7 linked regions of the Homo sapiens genome follow. The protein of the gene in region 7 purifies or fractionates together with the protein of the main gene of each other region. This does not show direct contact. Each region holds a gene or a part of one and is shown on either strand. Other genes may lie near its edges.

What was found.
Region 1: the proteins of ESRRG (region 7) and ARK2N purify together in Homo sapiens (co-immunoprecipitation; one large-scale study listed by IntAct). This does not show direct contact.
Region 2: the proteins of ESRRG (region 7) and ACOT4 purify together in Homo sapiens (affinity purification with mass spectrometry; one large-scale study listed by BioGRID and IntAct). This does not show direct contact.
Region 3: the proteins of ESRRG (region 7) and ISCA1 purify together in Homo sapiens (affinity purification with mass spectrometry; one large-scale study listed by BioGRID and IntAct). This does not show direct contact.
Region 4: the proteins of ESRRG (region 7) and PPARGC1B purify together in Homo sapiens (co-immunoprecipitation; 2 studies listed by BioGRID and IntAct, with this or other methods). This does not show direct contact.
Region 5: the proteins of ESRRG (region 7) and KGD4 purify together in Homo sapiens (co-immunoprecipitation; one large-scale study listed by IntAct). This does not show direct contact.
Region 6: the proteins of ESRRG (region 7) and TRPM3 purify together in Homo sapiens (co-immunoprecipitation; one large-scale study listed by IntAct). This does not show direct contact.

What each region holds. Positions count from the first base shown.
Region 1 is NC_000018.10:46,177,034-46,180,533, reverse strand, and holds part of ARK2N (protein ARK2N), read right to left. Parts: intron 1-3,500. UniProt on the Homo sapiens protein: AMPK substrate important for exercise capacity and skeletal muscle function.
Region 2 is NC_000014.9:73,590,453-73,594,672, reverse strand, and holds the start of ACOT4 (peroxisomal succinyl-coenzyme A thioesterase), read right to left. Parts: upstream 2,801-4,220; 5' UTR 2,714-2,800; coding exon 2,257-2,713; intron 972-2,256; coding exon 769-971; intron 1-768.
Region 3 is NC_000009.12:86,276,039-86,279,538, forward strand, and holds part of ISCA1 (iron-sulfur cluster assembly 1 homolog, mitochondrial precursor), read right to left. Parts: exon of another isoform or gene 2,179-3,500; intron 1-2,178. UniProt on the Homo sapiens protein: Involved in the maturation of mitochondrial 4Fe-4S proteins functioning late in the iron-sulfur cluster assembly pathway. Probably involved in the binding of an intermediate of Fe/S cluster assembly.
Region 4 is NC_000005.10:149,736,810-149,740,309, forward strand, and holds part of PPARGC1B (peroxisome proliferator-activated receptor gamma coactivator 1-beta), read left to right. Parts: intron 1-3,500. UniProt on the Homo sapiens protein: Plays a role of stimulator of transcription factors and nuclear receptors activities. Activates transcriptional activity of estrogen receptor alpha, nuclear respiratory factor 1 (NRF1) and glucocorticoid receptor in the presence of glucocorticoids.
Region 5 is NC_000005.10:69,224,260-69,227,759, reverse strand, and holds part of KGD4 (alpha-ketoglutarate dehydrogenase component 4), read right to left. Parts: intron 1,423-3,500; coding exon 1,359-1,422; intron 1-1,358. UniProt on the Homo sapiens protein: Molecular adapter that is necessary to form a stable 2-oxoglutarate dehydrogenase enzyme complex (OGDHC). Enables the specific recruitment of E3 subunit to E2 subunit in the 2-oxoglutarate dehydrogenase complex (OGDHC).
Region 6 is NC_000009.12:71,118,822-71,122,852, forward strand, and holds the start of TRPM3 (transient receptor potential cation channel subfamily M member 3), read right to left. Parts: upstream 2,801-4,031; 5' UTR 2,534-2,800; coding exon 2,357-2,533; intron 1-2,356. UniProt on the Homo sapiens protein: Constitutively active, non-selective divalent cation-conducting channel that is permeable to Ca(2+), Mn(2+), and Mg(2+), with a high permeability for Ca(2+).
Region 7 is NC_000001.11:216,671,430-216,674,929, forward strand, and holds part of ESRRG (estrogen-related receptor gamma), read right to left. Parts: intron 1-3,500. UniProt on the Homo sapiens protein: Orphan receptor that acts as a transcription activator in the absence of bound ligand. Binds specifically to an estrogen response element and activates reporter genes controlled by estrogen response elements.

The sequences.
Region 1 (3,500 bases), on a different chromosome or scaffold from region 7:
TGTTTCTCCAAGTTGGTCAGGCTGGTCTCAAACTCCGAACTTCAGGTGATCCGCCCGCCTCGGCCTCCCAAAGTGCTGGGATTACAGGCGTGAGCCACCGTGCCCTGCCCCAAACTGCTTATTTTATGTGCCCATTACCACCTGGCATGTAAATGCTCAGTAAATGGGTTTTTAATTTAACCAGGTATAAATACCACATATGCATTAAGTCCCTGCTGATAGATTTCCACTTTAGATTAATTGTCACTTAACTAGAAAATACTCATTTAGGTAGGTTTTAAAATTATTTAAAGTCAAGTTAATAATTTAGGAATTTACACCATCTACCTATTAAGTGGCAGAGTCTGAGCAAAGAGGAATGAGGTCCCTTATTTTGAACAGACATGAAAGAGAACAGAAACAAAACTTAAAACACTGTAAATTAAAGCCAAAATTCCTAACAACTAATCAAACAACTTATCAAATCTCAGTTATATTGGCTACTTTAAAGTATTTTAAAATCACATTTACTATTATCAGCTGCTACAAATATGTTCCGATAAATCTGTATAACACATAGATCACATAGTTTCCTCTCCTAGCAGTTCAGGAATATAGAAGAGAACTTTAGGCCGGGCGCAGTGGCTCACACCTGTAATCCCAGCACTTTGGGAGGCCAAGGCGGGCAGATTACCTGAGGTCGGGAGTTTGAGACCAGCCTGACTAACATGGAGAAACCCCTTCTCTACTAGAAATACAAAATTAGGCAGGCGTGGCAGCACATGACTGTAATCCCAGCTACTCGGGAGGCTGAGGCAGGAGAATCGCTTGAACCCAGGAGGCGGAGGTTGCGGTGAGCGGAGATGGCGCCATTGCACTCCAGCCTGGGCAACAAGAGCGAAACTCCGTCTCAAAAAAAAAAAAAAAAAGATAACTTTAAAAAAGCAAGATTACTTTTTAGTTTCACCCTGCTCCTGCTCCTTACTTTTACAAGGCCCTGTAGGCTGAGTGTGAAAACTGACTGACTGAACATCAATCCCACTTCTGCTGAGAGAAGCTGCCCACACAGAAGTAAAAAACACTGCTTCTTTAAGTGGAATCATAAGAGTTCTGAAAAAGTAAGGAAAAGAGGTACAGGTAAAGGCTAAAAGGATTCAGAAGAGTATCATGACAACAGTCAAACTCAAAACCAAGACTGGAAATTGACAACTAAAGAAAAATAACTATCAGATTTATTTAATCTGATGACCAAGAAATCAAAATAAATAAACCAAACTAAAATAAATAAAACCAATAAAATTTATATTCACTGGGCTGGGCTCAGTGGCTCACCTCTGTAATCCTAGCACTTTGGGAGGCCAAGGTGGGCGATCACTTGAGGTCAGGAGTTCAAGACCAGCCTGGCCAACAGGGTGAAACTTCGTCTCTACCAAAAATATAAAAAATTAGCTGGGTGTGGTGGCACGCGCCTGTAATCCCAGCTACTCGGGAGGCTGAGGCAGGAGAATCACTTGAACCCAGGAGGCAGAGGTTGCTGTGAGCAGATATCCTGACACTGCAGTTCAGCCTGGGTGAAAGGGCAAAACTCCATCTCAAAAAAAATTTGTATTCACTCAACTTAAGGATAATAAAGAAAAATATTTTTGTTGTTTTTTTTTTTTGAGAAAGAGTCTCAGGCAGTGGCATGATCACCACTCACTGCAGCCACAAACCCCTGGGCTCAACTGCTCCTCCCATTTCAGCCTCCTGAGTAGCTGGGACTACAGGCGTGTGCCACCACACCCAGATAATCTTTTAATTTTTCTGTAGAGACGGTTCTGCCATGTTGCCCAGGCTGGTCTCCTGGGCTCAAGCAATCCACCGGCCTCAGCCTCCCAACGTGCTGGGATTACAGGCATGAGCCACTGCACGTAGCCCCAGAAAAATCTTTAAAAAGTTATGTCAGGGCCAGGCATGGTGGCTCCCGCCTATAATCCCAACACTTTGGGAGGCCGAGGTGGTGCATCACCCGAGGTCAGGAGTTCGAGACCAGCCTGGCCAACATGGTGAAACCCTGTCTCTACCAAATACAAAAATTAGCCTGGCATGACGGCACATGCCTGCAATCCCAACTACTCGGGAGGCTGAGGCAGGAGAATCACTTGAACCCAGAAGGTGGAGATTGCAGTGAGCGGAGATTGTGCCATTGCACTCCAGCCTGGGCATCGCAGTGAGACTCTGTCTCAAAAAAAATAAATAAATAAAAATAAAAGGAATGCCTATCTCATTCTTCACATTCTACCTGGAATTCTTTCCTCCAAAAAGAAGAAAATTCCCAACCCATTAGCGGACTAATAAGGTACCTTTGCAACTTGGCCCTATCTCCATCTGCCCTATCCATTCCTTTTGAAAACTCAAGGCACTGGCCCCACTTAACCATTCAAGTGCACTGATAATCATGACTTTGGTTAGGCTGCCCTAGCCTGGCATGCTCACCTGGAAATCCAACTCGAACCTCAGGTTTAAATGTCTAAGCTCCTTAAGCACCAGGTGGCCTTGTTGGTCTTATTCACCACTATAGTTCCTGCAACTAGAGCACTGCTGGCACACAGTAAACACTCAATAAATTGTTGTTGTGAGAATAAAGACTCTCCATATGAATTATTATTTTTTGAAACAAGGTCTCACTTTGTTGCCCAGGCTGGAGTGCAGCGGCACAGTCACAGCTCACTGTAGCCTCAACCTCCTGAGCGATCCTTCCACCTCAGCCCCACAAGCAGCAGGGACTAAAGATGCATACCACCCCACCCAGCTAAGTTTTTAAATTTTTTATAGAAATGGGCTCTCAAGGCCGGGCACGGTGGCTCACACCTGTAATCCCAGCACTTTGGGAGGCCGAGGCAGGTGATCACTTGAGGTCAGGAATTCGAGACCAACCTGGCCAACATGGTGAAACCACATCTCTACTAAAAATAAAAAATTAGTCAGGCGTGGTGGCAGGCGCCTGTCTTAGCTACTTGGGAGGCTGACATGGAAGAATCATTTGAACCCGGAAGGCAGAGTTTGCAGTGAGCCAAGACCGCGCCACTGTACTCCAGCCTGGGCAACAGAGTAAGACTCCATCAAAAAAAAAAAAAAAAAAAAGTAAAGAAAAAAAGAAAGAACAAACGAACAAAAGAAGAAAAAGAAAGGGGCTCTCACTATGTTGCCCAGGCTGATCTCAAACTCCTGAGTTCAACTGATCCTCCCGTCTCAGCCTCCCAAAATGCTGGGATTAGAGGTGTGAGCCACTGTGCCCAGCCCCTTACAAATATTTTATCCACTCTATTTTCTATCCCCCTTCTATATAGCTCTCCCCTTTTATAGTCTCACAACTTTTTATTCATAGTATCATATGTACTTCATTTTGCCTAGAGAATTACAGTAACCCAAGAAACTTTATTTGGTCCCAAACTCTTTCCTAAAATAACAGAAGATAATGAAATCACTATTCCTTAAAGGAACACATTAAAAATCCAACATTTAGGCCGGGTGCAGTTGCT
Region 2 (4,220 bases), on a different chromosome or scaffold from region 7:
TTATCCAATGCAAAAACATTTTTCTAAAATGCAAACAGAGATGCTGCTAGCTTTAATCTGGGAATCATCCACAAGAAAATCAACCTCAGCTGACAGGGGAGTTTCTTCCCATGTGCAGAATATCTGGCTGAACACATGGCAAACACATCTTAAAATCACTGAAAAACTTGGAAACTGGTTATAAGCATTTCAGAGAATTATCCACTAGAGAATGCTGAGCCGCTGAGCCGCTGAGCCACAGATCCCATCAAGTTCAGGGCCACATTCAGGTAGGTCTGACTGAAGTCTTCATGTGGCAATGCATCCAATAGTGTGGAACCAGGTTGTTTCAAGATGTGAATCATTCATCAGATCATTTGCCATATGTATTGGCAAATGATTACAAAGCAAGACTTCAGAGTAAGTAAGTTTGTTCTTGGCTTCTGAAAGGGGTGGACAAGTTCTGACCAAAATCTGAGAACATACTCTGACACCAGGAAATTAAAATTTAAAAACAAGCATGCAAAGACAGTAGATTAGAAATTCAATTTGCAATATACAGATAATATTTAATATTACTAAATAAAATCTCATGTGGATTTTACAATTAATTCTATATCACAAATTCATCTGACAGAAAAAGTGGAAATAGCACCTTAAGCCAAGGAAGTCTCCAGAAGACATCTTTGTGAAAGAGGAACAGAGCAGCATTTCTGCACGTGGTAAAGGTTACACTCTCTATGGAAATATTTCTAGAGAGACTGATTAAATAAAGGACATGAGGAGAACCTGGGGATGTTGAAGCATGTAGCATACGGCTTCTTCGAAGTACTCCAGGGATATGTTGTCCATGTTATTGGGGAGATCTTCAAAGTTATAATAAGCTAGAGCCAACGTGGCAAAGCCATGGCCAGCAAGGAGGCTGGCTCGATATTCCAAGAGGCCCCCTCCAATACCAAAGATGTCAATGATCCCTGGGAAGGGTCCAGGTCCTAGAGAACAAAATATTATAAATGTAAGCCATTATACAATTTAAAGAATTTGCTTTCCTGGCTGGACACTGTGGTTCATGCTTGTAATCTCAGCACTTTAGGAGGCCAAGGCAGGAGGATTGCTTGAGGCCAGGAGTTCAAGACCAGCCTGGACAATGTAGTGAGACCCCATCTCTACAATCTTTTTTTTTTTTTAATTAGTCAGTGTGGTGGTGTATGCCTGTAGTCCTAGCTACTTGGGAGGCAATGGAGGGAGGATCACTTGAGCCCCAGAGGTCAAGGCTGCAGTGAGGTGTGACCACACCACTGCACTCCAGCGTGGGCAACAGAGACAGACACTGTCTCAAAAAAAAAAAAAAAAAAAAGAAAGAAAGAAAAGAAAAAAGATTGAAACAAAACTTTATGTTCTGTTGCATCAGCCCTCTGGTTTTTAGTGTACTGATATTTCAGATGTCTATGTAGAAAGGGAGGAAAGAAAAAGAAATACCCAGAGATGGTTTTAGGTGAGAAAGGCAGTGGAGTCTGAAGTGTGACCTGTGATAAAGCAGCACATGAAGAAGTGGAGAAGAGACAGTGTGCCTAGAACACTAGAGAAGACGACATGGTAATAGCTTCATTCACTGTCATCATTCTGCCTTAGACAAGTCAGGCTGATGCCTGTAGAAATCTGTAGGGTAGTGATTAATAGCAAAGTGGATAATGTACCTGACGACCTGAACCTGTTTTTTCATCTGCAGAATAACAATACCAACTTCATTGGGATATTATAGAGACTAACTGATAGAATGCAAGTAAAAACCGTAGTACACAGCCTAACAAAAAATCCTTTTTTTTCTTTTTTCTTTTTTTGAGACGGAGTCTCGCTCTGTCACCCAGGCTGGAGTGCAGTGGTGCGATCTCGGCTCACTGCAACCTCCATCTCCCAGGTTCAAGCGATTCTCGTGCCTCAGCCTCCCGAGTGGCTGGGACTACAGGCGTGTGCCACCAGGCTGGACTAATTTTTGTATTTTCGGTAGAGTCAGCGTTTCACCATGCTGGCCAGTCTGGTCTCAAACTCCTGATCTCAAGTGATCCGCCCATCTCGGCCTCCCAAAGTGCTGGGATTACAGGCGTTAGTCACCACGCCCGGTACCAAACCCTCTATTTTGGTAGAGTGGCCACTGACATAGTCAATGTTAGCTTCTCTGATCTTGCTCCAAAACCAAACCAGTGCTAAATCAGCACTGGAAACAAACGGAGACTCAGGCCACTGACGCTCACACCACCCGCCAGCAGCCTGGCTCACCTGGCGGCAGGAAGAGCGTGGCGCGCACCCGGCCCGCTCGCACCGACTGGCGCCGCACCCCTGGCGGGAGGAAGTGGCGCTCGTGCTGCGCCTGGCACAGCAGCCGTCCAGGCTCGGGGTCGTGGCCGTCCAGCACCTCCAACTCCACGACAAAAGGAATCTGTACGTCCCGCTTCAGGAAGCGCCAAAAAGGCTTCTCGGGTTCCAGGGCCCAGAGCAGCCCCATGGGCTCGAGTCCCGCGAAGCTGCCGCCCAGCGCGGGTGCGCGCTCCAGGTCCAGCTCGCCGCGGGCGTCGGCGCAGTAGCGCGCGTGGGCCCGGAAGAGCGCGCCCTTCTCGTCGCGCAGGGACGCGCGCAGCGTAACCCGCTGCTCCGGGGCCAGGCCGCGCACGGCAATGCGCACCGGCTCGTTCCAGCAGCAGCGGCCTGGGGGCTCCAGGATCAGCGTTGCTGACATCTTGGAGCCGGAGCGGGGAATTCAAAGGTCGAGGCCCGAGACCCGTCCAAGATCGTGGCAAGCGCGCCGAATGTCCGGACGGCGTCCGGCGTCCCCTGGTGCCGGAAGCTGCCGGTGGCTGAGCAGTCCCAGAAAGCCCCTGGGACTTCAGACCGGTTAACCCGGCGCTCCGGACTCGTCTGAGGCAAAAGTAGCCAGGCTCCTCTTCAGGGTCGTCTCCTTGGGCCCCGGGGCGCGCAAGGTGTGGCGCCCAACCCACCCCGTAGAAAGCCTCTCTGCCTCACACCACCCTCGGTTGTTGGAATGAAAGTTGTTGGATGATCAATTTGTGGTGAAACCAAAAGCCAATGAGATCAAGCCAAATTCCAGCCTTTCATGGGCTCCATGGAAGGTTTTGTTTTTAACTTTTTTTTTTTTTGAAACAGAGTCTCCTCTGTCGCCCAGGCTGGAGTGCAGTGGCGCTTCGGCTCACTGCAATCTCCGCCTCCTGGGTTCAAGCGATTCTCCTGCCTCAGCCTCCCGAGTACCTGGGATTACAGGCGCGCGCCACCATGCCGCTAATTTTTGTATTTTTAGTAAAGAGGGAGTTACACCATGTTGGCCAGGCTGGTCTTGAACTCCTGACTTCAAGTGATCTTCCCGCCTTGGCCTCCCAAAGTGCTAGGGATTACAGGCGTGAGCCGCTGCGCCCGGCCTGCTTTTTTGTTGTATTTGAGACAGGGTCTCTCTCTGTCATCCAGGCTGCAAGGCGGTGGCTCGATCACAGGTCACTGCAGCCTCCACCTCCCAGGCTCAAGTGATCCTCCTGTCTCAGCCTTCGGAGTAGCTGTGACTACAGACAGCGCACCACCATGCCACGTTAATTTTTAAATGTTTATTTTTAGAGAGGAGGTGTCACCCTGTTTCCCAGGCTGGTCTCGAACTCCTGAGCACAAACTATCCTCCTGCCTCTGTAGTCCCAAAGTGCTAGTGATACGTGACAGCATGCTGGCTGCCCTCGCTCGCTGTCGGCGCCTCCTCGGCCTTGGCGCCCACTCTGGCCGCGCTTGAGGAGCCCTTCAGCCCGCCGCTGCACTGTGGGAGCCCCTTTCTGGGCTGGCCAAGGCCGGAGTCGGCTCCCTCAGCTTACTGGGAGGTGTGGAGGGAGAGGCGCGGGCGGGAACCGGGGCTGCCCGCGGGGCTTGCGGGCCAGCGCGAGTCCCGGGTGGGCGTGGGCTCGGCGGCCCCGCACTTGGAGCGGCCGGCCGGCCCGCAAGCCCCGGGCAGTGAGGGGCTTAGCACCTGGGGCAGCAGCTGCTGTGCTCGATTTCTCAGCGGGCCTTAGCTGCCTCCCCGCGGCGCAGGGCTCGGGACCTGCAGCCCGCCATGCCTGAGCCCCCGCCCCCGCCGTGAGCTTCTGCGCGGTCCGAGCCTCCTCAACGAGCTCCGCTCCCTGCTCCACTAACGCCCAGTCCCATCGACCGCCCAAGGGCTGAGAAGTGCGGGCGCACGGCGCGGGACTGGCAGG
Region 3 (3,500 bases), on a different chromosome or scaffold from region 7:
CACTTTATTTCTATTATTACATTGTAATATATAATGAAATAATTATATAACTCATCAAAATATACAATCAGTGGGAGCCCTGAGCTTGTTTTTCTGCAACTAGATGGCCCCATCTAGGGGTGATGAGAGACAGTGACAGATCATCAGGCATCATTCTCATAAGGAGTGCACAAACTAGCCCCTCACACCTGCAGTTCAGACTAGGGTTTGTGCTCCTATGAGAATCTAATGCCCCTGATGATCTGACAGGAGGTGGAGCTCGCTTAGGTGGTAATGCTTGGCTTGCCTGCTGCTCTCACCTCCTGCTGTGAGGCCCTGTTCCTAACAGGCCATGGACCAGTACCAGTCTGTAGCGCAGGGACTGGGGACCCCTGTTCTAAGTGATTGTCAATAAAAGCTAGCTTTCTTATCAACCACATGTAAATTTTCACCATATTTTCCTATGTGCATGCTGAAGAAATTAATCACTTACTGTCAAATAAAAATAGCTTTCTGTAAGTTTATTTTAAAAAGGCATAGCCTGGCTGGGCCTGGTGCCTCATGCCTATATTCCCAACACTTTGGGAGGCCGAGGTGGAAGTATCACTTGAGGTCAGCCAAGGTGGAAGGATCACTTGAAGTCAGGAGTTTGAGACCAGCCTGGCCAACATGGTGAAACCCCGTCTCTATTAAAAATACAAACATTAGCTGAGGATGATGGCATGCGCCTGTAATCCCAGCTACTCCGGAGGCTGACGCATGAGAATCGCTTGAACCCAGGAGGCGGAGGCTGCAGTAAGCCGAGATCATGCCACTGCACTCCAGCCTGGGAAACAGAGTGAGACTCTGTCTCAAAAAAAAAAAAAAAAAAAAAAAAAAGGCATAGCCATGGAAAATATCCGCGGGAACTAAAATCTGAAACGTGGTCTTGGTTTAATCTGAGTGGATCAAAGGCACAGATGGGCACACCACTGCATGATCTAAACAAAACAAATGTGTCTGTCACACTACTCCGTTTACCAGCCCCAAATATATAATTTTTTTTATCTCCAAGTGGTTTTCTAAATTATCTAATTTGGTTTTACAAAGTCATCTATTTTCTTATTTTCTCAACTTTTAGCAGGAAACACTTAAATACAGTAAATGAAAGCAATTCGTGGGGATTGGTCTACTTATCACCAAGTTGCTGATGTTCACATCTCATACTGAAGGACTCTTTAAGGGAAAAGTAACATTCAACAGGAACCTGTGTGCCTGGGAAGCTGCTGTTACAGGAACTAAAATATGTCTTAATTTTCCTGTGCCAGGCCAAAACCAAACCTACTCCACTGGGAGGGTGTTACTAATGATGGACAACCCAGGTCAGTACTCAACCAAGGGAAAAGGTTCTTAGAACTTTCAAAGTGACTGATCTGATTTTCAGAACAAGGGAGAGTGGTTAAAAGGGAAGAGTTGGGACTTAAAAAAAATCGAGCTATAAGAGGTACTTTTTGTGTCTCAGTACCAGGGAGAGGCTAAGAATCCTACCCTGCTTTAAGTCTACATACTCTGGCAACTTTGTGCTTAGGTAAAATTCATGTGAGAAACAGCATAAAATCTTCAACTACACAGCATGCTGCAGGGCCTAGCAGCCTGCCAGTACCAGTGCACTTCCCAGAACAACTAAGAAACATGTAATTCTCAAGAAATTTATGTACTATTAATGAATATAGCTTACCTGAGATTTGGCCCATGTTTTAAAATTTAAGAGCTTCCTGAAGCCCACTAAAATATGATGGTTTTTACTCACATGCAAATCACAGGAATATGACTTTTAAAGTGAGAGGTTATCTTTGAGGTAAGGTATTTTGGCCTAATTGAAAAATAAATATATTTCCAAGATGTTTCCGCTGTTAAAATTAAGGGAAAAGGCATTGTAGATGAATGTTTTATCACTACTTCATAGCAACACGCTTTCTAATCCTTGTAGGAGAAACTTTTCATTCTCAATCCTGTATTTCTTTAAGTAACTCCCCAGGCAATTTTCATTTTTTGCTGTTTAAGAAAATTAAATTAAATTCAAAGCTAAAGTTAACTCTGTGATTATGCATACTAAACATGTGCCAACAACTACAACTTAATTTCTCTACAAACATGGCATTTTAATGTCAACATATCAATTTTCTGGGGGAACAAAAGATGGTAAATAAATAGAGCCAGTGAACAAGTACAGTGTATTTTATTAAAATCATTCTTTAACAGCCATGGCTGGCATTAGAGTGTCAAAATAAGAAAAGACAAAAGCATTCTCTTTTGTCTTTTCTTATTTGTGTATATGTGTATATACACATCCAAAATACATATAATATACAAATATATATTTGTAGGCCAGGTGTGGTGGCTCATGCCTGTAATGCCAGCACTTTGGGAGGCCAAGGTGGGAGGACGGCTTGAGGCCAGGAGTTTGAGACCAGCCTGTGCAACAGAGCAAGACCCTGTCTCTACAATAAATTAAAAAAAAAAAATTAGCAGTCAAGGTGACATGTGCCTGTAGTCCCAGTTACTTGGGAGGCTGAGGTGAAAGGATTGCTTGAGCCCAGGAGTTTGAAGCTGCAGTAAGCCATGATCATGCCACTGCATATGAGCCTGGGTGACAGAGGAAGATCCTGTCTCTAAAAAGAAAAAGGTTTGTAATCATGGCATATATACATAATTTTGCAGCCTCCATTGAAACAATTTAACAAATTATTTTTTCATTTGATACATGGTAATAAACATATATTCACCATTTACTGAGCACCTTCTAAGTGTTTAATGGTTTAAACGTAACATCTTTTTATTCCTGCCATTGTGATTTAGGTATTAAAGATTAAATAATTTGCACAGCATAAGTCAAAGAATGAAGATTTATAACGCTGAAACTTAAAAAAAACCATAATTTACAATGACTACATCCTTCACCAACAGGATCTACTCTCACGTACTTAACCGTTCTTTCACTGTTAGACTGCTAGGCTACTTCCAGTGCTTCTTGTGTAGTATTTCCTAAACTGCCTTCGTATAGAAATCTTAGTGCTTGGTCACTGTTCAAAAGGACTTCTGGTTCTAGTCCAATGAACTAACACACAGTTCCTTACTGAGCATTAAGCATTTCCTAGCTTCTCAACTGGACTCCAATAGAAAGTTAAGCCCTAAGGCACCTTCCGTACACAATGAATTCATCAAGAATGATAGTGGCTGTGCACCATCATTCTCTCATAGAACTTGGTTGAGTTTTAATGCACAGCTGTGATCCACCCCAGTCCTACAAATTAGAGTTGCTCTGACTTGTACAATGATGGAAATAAATCTGTCTGCAAGCAGGGCACTATTTACTCTTCAGATTCTTTAATCACATCTGGCTCCTGCAAGTTCAATTCCACTTGTCAATTTCTAGATATGTAGGGAAATAGGGAAGATGTAGATAATCTGATAATGACAGCATTGAACTGTGTTATATTATCAGTTACTTTTCCTAGCCTTTTGTTGACATCTGGTAGACT
Region 4 (3,500 bases), on a different chromosome or scaffold from region 7:
AAGGAAGGTACAGAGATTTGCCATATACCCTTGCCCCCAACATGCATAGCCTCCCCCATTATTAATATTCCCCACCAGAGTTGTAGATTTGTTATAATTGATGAACCTACATTGACACATCATTGCCACCCCAGAGTCTGTAGTTTACATTAGGGTTCACTCCGTGGGTTTGGACAAATCTGTAATGACAGGTATCTACCATGGTAACATCACACAGAATAGTCTCACTGCCCTGGAAATCTGCTCTACCTTTTCATTTCTTCTGTCCCCCAACTCCTGACAACCACTGATCTTTTTACCGTTTGTACAGTTTTGCCTTTTCCAGAATGTCATATAGTTGGAATCACGCAGTATGTAGTGTTTTCAGATTGGCTTTTTTTTCACTTGCTGATAGGAATTTAAGGTTCCTCCATGACTTTCATGGCTTGATAGCTTAGCTCTCCGGTATTTTAAAATTAAAGCCTAAACTTAAACCTGATTTCCGAAGGCCTTCGGGTACTTTTAAGTTGGAGAGTTAGGCCCTTGACTTTGTCTTGAGCTGTCTGCTTTTACTTTGGGATCCTGTACCTCCCCAGGAAAACCCTGAATTTTCCTCCTGGAGGCTTAGACTCAGGCTGCCCTTTTCTGTGTCTTCCTTCTCCATTTCCATGATTCATCCTGCGAGCCCCTGCTCACCAGCCACTGTTTTGGCGATGCCCTCTCCCTCACCTCCAAGCCAGCTGTTCCATCTTCTGTGTGGCAGTACGCAGGGCCAGCAGAGCACTGACCTTGGAATCCCCTTACTGGGTTTGAGTCTTGGTTCTGCGATTTGCCAGCTTCGAGGCCTTTGGCGGGTCACATAACCTTTCTGAGCTTCTGTTTCCTGAAGTGAGAAGATATGATGATTAAGATTGTTGTGAAGAGGCCGGGCACAGTGGCTTACGCCTGTAATCCCAGCGCTTTGGGAGGCTGAGGTGGGTGGATCACCTGAGGTCAGGAGTTCGAGACCAGCCTGGCCAACATGATGAAACCGCGTCTCTACTAAAAATACAAAAATTAGCCGGGCATGGTGGCGCATGCCTGTATTCCCAGCTACTTGGGAGGCTGAGGCAGGAGAATCACTTGAACTGGGGAGGTGAAGGTTGCAGTGAGCCAGGATCACACTACTACACTCCAGCTTGGGTGACAGAGTGAGACTCTGTCTCAAAAAAAAGATTGTTGTGAAGAGTCAGTGAAAATCGAATGACAACATGGATTTAAAGCATGTAACACATGCCTGGCACAGAATAAGCACCAAATAATAGATATATCTCTTCATCTATAGATCATATTAAGTGTTAGGACATCACTCCTGGACGTTAAGCTCCACAAAGGCAAGAATTTTCGTTTATTTCATCCACCTTGTTTTTCACCATAATGAATAGATCAGTGCCTGGAATATAACAGACATTTAATCAGTCCTCATTGAATGATTAGGAAATCACTCCTGGACGTTAAGCTCCACAAAGGCAAGGATTTTCGTTCATTTCACCCACCTTTTGTTTTCACCACAGTGAATAGATCCGTGCCTGGAACATAACAGACATTTAATCAATCCTCATTGAGTGAATGAATATGCTAGACTATGAGCCTCTTCAGGGCAGACACTGCTTCTTGTTTTATATCTTCAGTCTGAGTGTTCCTGAGAAGGGATGGAATACAAGTCTGGTGGAATGAACTGGAATGTCCTCTCCCCGCCACCATCCCTGCCATTTTAATGTATTCATAGCCTACCTGAACTTTAAGCCCCCTCTTGAAAGCCTGCCCTCTCTGGAAAGCATTTTTTTTTTTTTGAGATGGCGTCTCACTCTGTCGCCCAGGTTGGAGTGCAGTGGTGCAATCTCGGCTCACTGCAACCTCCCGGGTTCAAGCGATTCTTCTGCCTCAGCCTCCCAAGTAGCTGAGACTACAGGCATGTGCTACCACACCTGGCTAATTTTTATATTTTTAGTAGAGATGGGGTTTCACCATATTGGCCAGGCTGGTCTTGAACTCCTGACCTCGTGATCCGCTCGCCTCGGCCTCCCAAAATGCTGGGATTGCAGGCATGAACCACCGCGTCCAGCCTCTAGAAAGCCTTTGAAGCTAACTTCTTCTGCTTCCACCACCCACGTGGCTTGTGCCACTTACTATCCCATGGTATCTGAGTGTGCTTTTATTCCTACAACTGGATTGAAAGCTCTGGGAGGACAAGAAATTATTTTTATCCTGGACTAGCAGTGTGGTTGCCTAGAAGAGCGTTTTATAGGTTTCAATGTCAGGTTCTCTGAAAGAACTTTGTATTTTAAACATTTGACTATGGAAAATGTCAACTCATACAGAAGTAGACAGTAGAGAGAACAGTATGGTGAATCCCCATCCCTCCATCACCCAGCGTCCACTGTTAAAGACTTGCAGTCACTCTTATTCCATCTCCATGTACAAGACGTCATTTCATCTGTGACTATTTCGTTGTGTATCTGTGAAGAGACTTCTGAGTGCTATTGCATGGATTTCTCCCAATAACTGTGAGACTGGCTTTCCCCATTTTGTAGGTGATGAAACTGAGGTGCAGGGAGGTTAGGTCAGTTGCTCAGGGTCTTGAAGCTAGTGAGCGGCTTACCTGGGATTTGAACCTTGACTGTGAGCAGCTCCCTCTCCTTCCAGGCTTGGGGCAGGGGGCCCTTGGAGATACAGGTACACCTTGCCATTTCCAGAAGAGAGGAAGCTGAGGTCCAGCTGCTTGGCTGGAGGAAGCCCAGGCCCCTGACTCCCTGGCAAGTTCATTTCCAGTGTCAGGTCTTGCGAGGTGCGGTGGGCCTTAGCTCTTGGGGAGGGCCAGGGTGGGTAGTCCTCTGAGAGACACCATTGCCCTGAGTGGCTGGGCTTTGGATGGCCGTGGGACCCTGGGGCAAGGTCTACCACCACCCCTGGACAGACTGCATTTTCTTCCTACTCTTGTCATTCCTAAATCCCAAAGGTCCTCCTTGCAGCTGACCACGAGTTCTCTCATGAGATGCTCAGGACTACCCAGTGAGGGAGAGGGAGCCAAGGGGTCAGCAGCTGGGTTCACAGAGCTCAGAGAGGAGGGGCCTGGCCTGAGGTCACCCAGCTGGCCTGGGCACAGGGTTGACAGGCTCTTGGTGGCATCTGGACCCTTGGGCTCCCACCCTGCTCTTTCCTCAGGATAGAGACCGAATTGCTACCCAGATCTGGAGTAGGAGACCAGAGACGAGACCTGAGAGACTTTCACAAATGGTGGGATAAAGCCATTGATTAACTGTCCCCAAAGGCCTGTGATGACTGTTTGGTGTTTTAGGTAAGAAAACAAACATTTGCCCTAATTGTTTGCTTCAGTGACTGAGAGGGCTGTGAATTCTAGGATGGGGTTCTGCTTGGGCAAAGCCCTGGGAGCTTGGCAGAGAATTTCTTTTGGCCTTCTTTTTCTATCTAGGAAATGGGGACGATAGTAGCATATGCTTTGAAGGCTTTTAGTGAAGAAT
Region 5 (3,500 bases), on a different chromosome or scaffold from region 7:
AACCCTTTAGGGGAACCTACACTACTTAAGCTTATGTCACATAACCCCTCATAGGCCAACACATGGTGGAGTTTACAGGTAATATCTTACAATAAGGAATAAGAAAGTCAGTAAATGTAAATGAGGGTAGTTTTCTCAATATCTTTACACTTGTTTAAACATCTTAATTCTTCAATAGTTACAATAAGTTAAAAATATACCTATAAAATGTGTTAAAATTGCCTGAATTAAAGATCAAGAGAGGCACAGAGGATCTGGTTTTTTTAAAAAAGGGCGGGAATCAGAGAAAAACAGAACCCTTTCAGAATCTTCTCCCATTAATTTTGAATAAATGCTAAGGATTAAGGCAATCCAAAAAATATTTACTGACTAGATGAATAGATAAATGAATGAATGAAAGAAAAGATGGTTGGTGAGGAGAGAAACAGGAATGGTTATTATTTTCCCAGTCTCTGCAAATGTAAGCATGGGAGAATCTTCTAAAGGATAGGAGAGAATAAAGGTAGGACAAAATTTTGCCCATATAAACTCACTAGAAATTCAGAGACATCTTCTGTTGAGTCACTACCTTTTAAAATAGGGGTAATAAAGGCCAGGTGAGTGGCTCATGCCTGTAATCCCAGCACTTTGGGAGGCGGAGGCAGGCAGATCACCTGAGATCAGGAGTCGAGACCAGCCTAGGCAACATGGTGAAACCCTGTCTCTACTAAAAATACAAAAATTAGCCAGGCGTGCTAGTGTATGCCTGTAATCCCAGCTACTAAGGATGCTGAAGCACGAGAATTGCTTTAACCCGGGAGGGGGAGACTGCAGTGTGCCAAGATAGCACCACTGCACTCCAGCCTGGGCGACAGAGCAAGACCCTGTCTCAAAAAATAAAATAAAATAGAGGTAATAATTTTTTTTTTTTTTGAGACAAAGTCTTGCCCTGTCACCCAGGCTGGAGTGCAGTGGCATGATCTTAGCTCACTGCAACCTCCGCCTCGTGGGTTCAAGCAATTCTATGCCTCAGCCTCCCGAGTAGCTGGGACTATAGGAGCCCGCCACCACGCCTGGCTAATTTTTTGTATTTTTTAGTAGAGACAGGGTTTCACCATGTTGGCCAGGCTGGTCTTGAACTCCTGACCTCAGGTGATCCGCGTGCCTCGGCCTCCCAAAGTGCTGGGATGACAGGCGTGAGCCACCGCTCCCAGCCATAAGTTAATTTCTACTTGCATGCTACATAAGGCACTATTTTGATCTAAGCTACAATAGTCTTAACTGATTTTAAAATGAGAAATATTGCCTATAATAAAATACTCATTTATAAATATTCATGTACACAATTTTAAAAGAAATTTAAATAAAATACAACTCACCATTGGGTTTAGGATTGTCTCTTCTGTCAGGAAACCTTATTAATGGAGTGTGTGGTTTGACTACCTAAATGAAAAGTAATATGCATGAAAAACAATCTCATTAACTAAAAGAAATGATCTACTAAACCTCATAAGTAGATACGTTTGTTAAAATTACTATTTTACAGCAACTTTAAATTATACTCTTCCCCAACCAGGAAAGCTGGTCTATGAATTATTAACTTGTCTACCCGGTAAACACAACTTTGTACTTTATATATCACAAGACTTCATTGTACTATCGAAGGTGTACTTCACTTCAAAGCAACCCAATGGAGGAGATGATGTAGAGTTTATGTTGCATGACTTATAGATTGGTAAGAATGAAAGCTGGCTGGGTGCAGTGGCTTATGCCTGTAATCCCAACATTTTGGGAGGCCCAGACAGGCAGATTGCGTGAGTGCAGGAGTTTGAGACCAGCCTGGGCAACATGGTGAAACCCCGTCTCTACCAAAAATTAAAACAAAAACAAAAAGAAAAACAAGGCCCAGTGTGATGGCTCACGCCTATAATCCCAACACTTTGGGAGGCCGAGGCGGACGGATCACGAGGTCAGGAGTTCAAGACCAGCCTGGCCAACATGGTGAAACCCCATCTCTACTAAAAATACAAAAATTAGTTGGGCATGGTGATGCGTGCCTGTAATCCTAGCTACTTGGGAGGCTGAGGCAGGAGAACTGCTTGAACCAACCGGGACTCCGGAGGCAGAGGTTGCAGTGAGCTGAGATCGTGCCACTGCACTCTAGCCTGGGCTACAGAGTGAGACTCCATCTTAAAAAAAAAAAAAAAAAAAAAGGTGGCTGAGCATGGTGGCTCACACCTGTAATCCCAGCACTTTGGAAGGCTGAGGCAGGTGGATCACGAGGTCAGGAGTTCGAGAGCAGCCTGACCAACAGGGTGAAACCTCGTATCTACTAAAAATACAAAAATTAGCAGGGCATGGTGGTAGTGCACACCTGTAATCCCAGCTACTCAGGAGGCTGAGGCAGGAGAATCGCTTGAACGCAGGAGGCAGAGGTTGCAGTGAGCAGAGATAGTGCCACCATACTTCAGTCTGACCACAGAGCGAGACTCCGTCTCAAAAAAAAAAAAAAAAAAAATGTGGTGCTATGTGCCTGTAGTTCCAGCTACTTGGGAGGCTGAGGTGGGAGGATCACTTGAACCAAGGAGGCAGAGGTTGCAGTGAGCTCAGATCTTGCCACTGCACTCCAGCCTGGGCAACAGAGTGAGACCCCATCTCAAAGAAAAAACACTGGAAATTTACTGCCTTTTTTTTTTTTTTCTTTTTTCAGACGGAGTCTCACTCTGTCGCCCAGGCTGGAGTGCAGCGGCACGATCTCAGCTCACTGGAACCTCCACCTCCTGTGTTCAAGCGATTCTCCTGCCCCAGCCTCCCGAGTAGCTGGGACTATAGGCACGTGCCACCACGCCCGGCTAGTTTTTTTCACTTTTAGTAGAGACGGGGTTTCACCGTGTTAGCCAAGGTGGTCTCAATCTCCTGACCTCATGATCCGCCCACCTTGGCCTCCTAAAGTGCTGGGATTACAGGTGTGAGCCACCGCACCCGGCAGAAATTTACTGACTTTTTAAATTTTTTGTTGAGACAGCGTCTGGCTTGTTGCCCAGGATGGAGTGCACTGGCATGATGTGGCCTTACCGCAACCTCCGCCTCCTGCTCCTAGGTACAAGCAATCTTCTTGCCTTAGCCTCCCAAAGTTCTAGGATTTCAGGCATGAACCACTGCACCTGGCCTCCTGACTTGTTTTGAGTGTTATTTCCCTACTATATTAATACCTAACAGGGAAGAAAAAACAATCATTTTGAAAATTAGAAAATTAAAGAATACTTTTTTTGACTACAAAAGTAACACAAATTCTGTGTAAAACATTTGGAAGAACACAGAAGAGCACAAAGAAGAAAACACTATAATCCCAAGACCCACGTAAAACAAATAAAAGACTTTTTTTTTTTTTGAGATGGAGTCTCCTCTGTCACCCAGGCTGGAATGTAGTGGCGTAATCTCTGTTCACTGCAACCTCCGCCTCCCAGGTTCAAGCAATTCTCCTGCCTCAGCCTCCTGAGTAGCCAGGATTACAGGCCTGC
Region 6 (4,031 bases), on a different chromosome or scaffold from region 7:
GGGAGGGAGGAGAAAGAAAGGAAAGGACATAAGAAATACTGTTATTAAATATTTCATTTCTAGATTAAGCCAGGAAGAGCATTTACCAAAACATGCAAATTATTATTCATGAACTTACATTTTACTCAAAAGATAAAATGGCAAGAATACATAGGAACTAGCAAAGCAAACACAGGAATCCATAGGAGAAACATACAACAATCCATAGGAAAAAAATACATAGCATTCACAGCCAGAGAGTGGACAATACAATTGCTCATATACCAAAGCAGCTTTGCTTTCTTTCTAAGTATTGCTGAAAGAACTTGGTATGACTTTATTTTTTTAAGAGTTTGAAATGTGCTCAATATCTGAAGTCTCAGAAGATAGCTATGATCTTTCAAAAATACAGATGTCATTTGGGAAAAAAGTTCTCCAGTAAGGTTCCATCCTGTCTTTTAGATATTGAAAAAATGGGAAGGACACACAGTAATGCACTTTATTCAATAAATTATTACAAAGCATCACTTTAATAAAGGATGGTAAGATTGAGCTGTATGCCAATGAAAGTATGGCTGTAGCATTAACAATGTCTCCTGAAAGTATGGACAGCACTTTCAGTTAAAAAAGATGACAGAACTCACTCTCCTAAAAAGACAGAGCTTCTTCTAAAAGAAGTACCTCAGGTAGGTACTTCTCTGCTGGTTTTGTGACTAGTAAATGAATAACATTCTCCATTTAAAAAAAAACTAGCATATTAATTAATCATATATGGAGAGTGATAGTCACCTATCTGTCAAGAAGAGTTAAAAAGCATTATTTTGGGTTAAAGCTGATACATGACTTTAACTGAAAAAATGTTTCTCATTGCACTTCGAATTACTGGAGTTGAATTCTTTCAGGGAGACTTAGATATGCCCATTCTTTGCCCCTGACTCTTGATTCACTAGTGATTCTGGAGAAAATGTACACCAATTTGTTAATTCTCTGGCCTCATTCTTTTTCTTGCCCTATCACACATGTTGTTACAACACAGCAAAAACACACATATCCAAGGAAAAGTCTCTTCTACTACCCATACCCAAACCTGCCTTTCCTCCTAAATAGTCCCTAGGGAAGCAAGCCATCGCCATGACAACCATATGATGGGAGTTTGAACAGCACTTGGGGCAGCCTTTGTTGAAAGTTAATACCAGTTGGTGTTTAACAAGAAAAGGAAAACTCAGGCAAGGGGTAATACTCTGTTGTGAGGCACCACTTAGCTGTATGGAACTAACTGTCCCCATCAAATCTTACCTAACCAGAACACATCCTCAGAACAAAATTCTCCAAGTGTAACGTATTCAGGGCTAATTCATTAATTCTCCATTGTAGCCCACTGGACTCAATGCTCTGTGGTCACTAAATCAAAAGAGCATACATACTCAGGAAAAGAGAATTAAGAACTTTGCCTTTTTTAACTTCGAATGGATATAGAACATCAGAGATATTTATTTTTCCCTATTAAGTATTACCACCTTCTATTTACTGGGCAAAAATGCTTGTTTCCTGCACCTTTAAATCTAATTTGTGTTTTCCCCCCTACAAGAAAGATCATGAAGGTGGATTAGTACAGAGTTGTATGGACTTTTTCAGTATCTTTAATGCATTTGCTTCTGGAAAGAGAAGCGCTGCAGACACACGGTGGCAATTCCTGCTCAGGTGTAGTGCCATTCTTTTGTGTGACTCACAGCTAGAGAGAGAGCTGACATTCAATATATGTTTAACAATACTTTCCCACTACTGATTCCACTCAGGAGACTCACATTTTTATGCCTTTTCTAAAAACAAGGACACAAAAAAAGTCACTGTCTGAGGAGGCTCATTCTTTGTTCATCTTCACCTGACTGGCCACCTAACTACACAAAGCTTTTAAACTAATGAGGAGAATCCTTTGTTCTCTCTGGTTCCATTTAAAGGGAAAGTGGGTCGAAGGGCTTCCCCAGGGAGAGAGAAAGAAAAGCCCAGGAGCCAAACACAAGGGAGTAAGAGATTTCACTCCCACTACTATTCCCACCCTCCCAAAGAAGTTAATTAATTCTGTTTTAGGAATGGTTAAAAGGGGTGGGGGAGCACCAGGTAGCCCATTCTCTGAGACCAAAATCTCCTTCTCGAGTGTGGTTCGCACCAGCCTCTTGTCTCTGACACCACGGGGTGTGGGTGGGGGGCGTGGGGGGAGGGCAGGAGTACTGAGAACCTCTCTCCAGCCACGGACCACAGAGCCAGTACTGCATGCATTTAGGCTCCCCCAAAGGTGCGTCCCAGCCCAAGTCCCCAAGTTGGGTATTTAAATCTAAAAAGCACAATTAGCGCCATTCAAAGCTGCAAGTTACAGTACCTTCAGAAGTCTGACAGATGGAAGAAAGGCTGCGTGGCACAGCTTCCGGATGGTCCAGTTTAGGGGTCGAGGAGCATCAGCCTGATTCATGACCCCTTCCAAATTCCACCAGGAAAACAAGAAACTGAAAACCTGAGCAATGCCTAGAAAATAAACGGTCCCCCACGGCTCTGGCATCCCATGGTCATCTCCACACCTGCAAATTCCATTAGGGCAGAGGCTTCCTGGAACTTGGAAGACTAGTCAAGTAGCCTTGCCTGAGCCCCTGAACCTTCTTAAAACAGCCACCTCCCCTCTCTCTGCAGCCGTGCTCATGCATACCAAATGTGGCTGAATGGAGGCACACTGCCTGCTGCTTCGGGGAGGGGATGCACGATTTTGAAGAAGAGGGACAGCCTGCACAAAACAGCCTGTGGTCGGAGTCAAAGCAGCCTGCTCCAGAATGCGCGCTCCCTCTCCCGCTCTCCTCCCAGTAAACGCAGGTCAGGCGTTGGGGGGGAACCGGGGCCATTGCTTTGCTAGCTTGGTTTGGGGGGGAGCCAGGAGGATCGCAAAAGGGAACAAAAATGAAGCCAGAACGGGAAACTTGCACTTTCTTGCACAAAGCATCTTTGAGGGACTGAGAACTGGTACGGGGGGAGGGGTGAGGACACAGGGAGAGAAGGGGTGCCTCCGAATGATGAGATAAATGCTTCCCTTTTGATTTATGTGACATAATAAAGTGAGGCTATCATCAAATACATCTATAGTAAAAGAGATCTGTGTCGTGTTCTGAGGTTTTTATTAACCGTGATTGACAGTCTTCATCCTGATAATCGGTTGCATAGATGACAGACACTGAGACAGAAGCAAACTCAAACACACTGGGTTGTTCCTTTCATACAAAGCAGTTTAAACTCATGGGCATTTGGCTCACCTTTTAGAGATGGCAGTTTTTAAATGGGGGTTATCTCCTGGAAAGCCACTTGATACCGCTTCTCTGCAACACAAGTTTAACCCATAAAGTGCCACATGGGATGCTGTCTATAAAGAATGGATTTTCCTCAAGTGGGGTGTCCACCCCCATCATTTTCTAAGGAGGCTGTATGAAATAGTTGCTGAGTTGGAATGTATAGTCTTTAGGACTCCTGTGGTGAGAGAGAGAATTAAAGGACAGTTTTTCAATTTGAAGGTAGAAATTGGATAATTTCACATAGTAAGTTGGGACGGTGAGATGAGAAGGGAGTTCCTGACACAACCCCCCTTCGGCTCCCATGTACCCCCAGGCATCGGACCTCAGTGGGAGCAGTTGACCTGACAACTCCTATGGGGAGAATCCCCACATCCTTGGAGCATCGCCATCTTATTTATTTTTTCCTCTGTGACCATGCTGATTTTCCATTTCTAATTAACTTGAAGAGATTGGTAAATCCCAGCTCCATGACTATTATGCAGTCAGAGCTGAACTGGGAGTGGTGCAAGCAGATGTGATACACTGCTGTAATTCAGAACCGGGACAACACAGGCCCACCCCAGCATGAAATCAATACCTGACACACTGCGCTACAACACCATTTCACTCACAATGGTCTTGTGTCAAAAATTTAAGAAAGATATTGCAGAAAACTAGTCCACGGGTGGAAGGCAGACCATTGACCTACCTCGTATAGTAAAATTTATGTCTCTGATTATCTAC
Region 7 (3,500 bases):
TGTCCTTCTAGTTTAGCATCAAGGATAACTCTGTGCTAGATTACACGAACCATCCAGCCTCTGGGTATCCCAGTCATATTCCCAATATCAACCAAAGTTAATAATTTAGTGTACATTTACTATGGGTCAAGTACTTCGATATTCATTCTCTCATGTAACCCTCATCACTTGGGAAACAGAGGAAAAGAGGGGTTAAGGTCTCACAGCTGGTAAGTGGCTGAGACTTGGGCCTGGCTTTATATAAATCCAAAACCGATGCTATAATGAACATCTTTTTAAAATCTCATATTTTTAAATATACAATTTCCCACCTTTTAAATGTGGGGGAAAGAAGAATACTTTATTTCTAGCACTATAATGAGGAGTTAGAATGGCTATATTATCTACACAAAGAAAACTATTTATAAAATTATTTTCTTTATTATATGGACATAAAAACTTCAGGAGGCTAGTGTTTTGTCTATTAAATAATGAAATATGTAATACTTGGGTATTACTTATACTTGGGTATAAGGATGTTTTCCTTCTCTTGCCTCCTTAACAAGAGTCTAGGGGAAACTCTTAATGAGAAGTTCCCAAAAAAAAAGAAAAGAAAAGAAGGAAGGAAGGAAAGAAAGAAGGAAGGAAGGAAGGAGGGAAAGAAGGCAGACTCCAATCATTTATGAATTAAGGCCAAAATTGGAATTGGAAAAAAAATCAGAAGAATAACAATATCACATCCCCAAAATTACTATGCCTAGAAAATGACGTGAAATCACTGCTGCCACTGTAACCCTATTGGATGACAGGGTAGAGCTGTCAAAGTTTTGTAAAAAGTATTTTGGTCAGCCAAAAACAAAAACAAAACAGCAAAACTTTGGCTTCTACCCAACTAAATGCTGACATAATTCAATAGTTTTTCAATGATAACTTGAAAATAGTCAACAAGTAAAATATTCCTTTCTATTTACCTTTCATTGAAATCCATGATTAATTGTCTTTCACAACAGAAATAGCACATTCAGCTCTGAAAAGAACAATTTGTATTACTTTTCTCAAGATATGGTCTGGATATATGTTCTTTTGGTGCCAAGTTTAAGAAGTATTTTTCCCAACTTTTTAAACGTATATATTTATTACACACTCGATAACCAATCCTAAAAATAAATTGTTAAAATAAGAAGTAAGATGGCTCATGCCTGTAATCCCAGCACTTTGGGAGGCTGAGGCAGGAGGATCATTTGAGGCTAGGAGTTTGAGACCAGCCTGGGCAACATAGGGAGATCCCGTCTCTACAAAAGAGTGAAAAATTAGGTAGGCATGGTAGTGCATGCCTGTTTTCCAGCTACTTGGGAGGCTGAGGGGAAGGGATCACTTGAGCCCAGGAGGTGGAGGCTGCAGTGAGCCAAGATCACATCACTGTACAACAGCCTGGGCAACACAGTGAGACCCTGTCTCAAAAATAATAAGAAGATATATTAAAAAGGAAAGATCTTAACAGATGATGGTGTACATGAAAATGCCTATGGATGCACACGTCCCTTAAGTCAATGAGAGTAGAACCAGGCCCTGGTGAGGCAGGAGTCACATTTATGTAACGGCCTGTCCATTGGGGCTCTAGTCTAGCAAGGCTTGTTGTCAAGGGGAGTTACATAATCTCTTCCTTTTCCTTGGAGAGCTTTAATGGAGGGGAGGGAGAGACTACGATCTGTTAAGGGTGGTTTGGCTGCAATGCTGTCTGAAGGCATGAGAATGAACTCTAAGGCAGCTTCAGCATTGGAATAAGAGTCTGGGCCACACTCAACATCTTTGGAGTTCAACTGCTATCACTACCGTATTTGGCCACAGAAAGGAGGGGCCGTTCCAATCTTCCTTACAATTACTGCTCTAATTATTACATTATACTTTCACAATTTAATCCCTTTATTTGCCTCACTGCCTTTTTGGGGCTAAGTGAGCACCACAGTGTGATGTCTGATGATGTAGCTAGCAGGGTAGCCTCACCAAGTGCTGCGCAGCTGCCAGCTACAAGCACAGCCAGGTGGGCAAGTCCAGAGTGCTAATCTGGACAGTGACATCTCTGTCTCCTGCTCAAAATCCTTGAAACTTGCTCTCTCCAATACGGAGTAAAACTGAGCACATACATCAATGCCAAGAATCACCCTGTGCTTTGCTCTGTTAAGCTTTTGGTAGCATTTCAGCATCCTAAAGAATAATCATGCATAGAATTCCAATTGCTCTATTCTAATTATTGCTCAGTAAATAACTATTGCAGAGCTATTAATGTCTAACCTATAAAATGTTTTGAGACATGTATTAGGAAATTTTTTCACACTGTTATTCTATCTTTACAAAACATACCGAAGACTCGAGGGTTTAATCCCCTCAACCCTAAAAATTGTTACTTCCTCAAGGCAGGAGACATTTGTTAGAGGAATTCATCTCAATCCACAACCTTTGGGAACAAAGCTTTAATAAAATGTGGATAAGAGGACACTCCAACCAGCCTGCTGTCTGAATCACAGGTTCTCAGTAAATATTCGTTGAATAAATGGGAGTGGTTTTCACACTGAGAACCTCTTGCTTATATCAGCGCACTCAGTGCTCATGAATTTATCCCAAAATATTTGCTTATCTTTGTGTAGTTAAAATTCAGAGCTGTGTAAACTGAGTTAACAAAATCAAATTAATAACAGTTTGAATTGTATATACTTTGTAACCATAAGGATTATAACACTGTGGAACAATGGCTGGTAAACACCCAAAGATTTGAGGTGTGCTTTCATTCTCAAGTTTTGTAGTGTTACCAAATAGACTGAAGAGATTTCTCAAATGCTCAGAAGTGATGAAAAGCCTTGTGCACAGACCATTGTTTTTAGCTTTCTCGCTTTCCATGTGATTTTATATTTCATTTTAAACTTAAGTATTCTGAGGTTAATGCCTTCAATTTATAGATGAGGATAAAGAAAATAAAAATCCAGTAAATGAAAGATTTTTGTAAGAAAATATCAATAAATATAGCAACGATGAGCCAGAAATTATAAAGATACAGCTATGAAGATGTTTAGGACATTCATATGTACTGCATACTAACTTGGTTTTGTGCTCTTCATTTAAAACTATGAAAGGCTATGAAAAGATTAGGATTAAGTATCTCATCTACTATGTAAGAGTATGATGTCTTGAGAAATTGTGCTTTGGGTAAACTTTTTTTTTTTTTTTTTTTGAGACTGTGTCTAGCTCTGTCACCCCAGGCTGGAGTGCAATCATGGCTCACTGCAACCTCCAATTCCTGGGCTCAAGCAATCCTTCTGCCTCAACCTTTCCAGTAGCCACGACTACAGGTGCATGCCACCATGCTCAACTAATTTGTAAATTTTTTATAGAGACAGGGTTCTCACTTTGTTGCCCAGATTAATCTCTTGAACTTTTGGCCTTAAGGGATCCTCCAGCCTCAGCCTCCCAAAGTGGTGGGATTACAGGCATGAGCCACTGCACCTGACTAAGTAAACATTTTGATT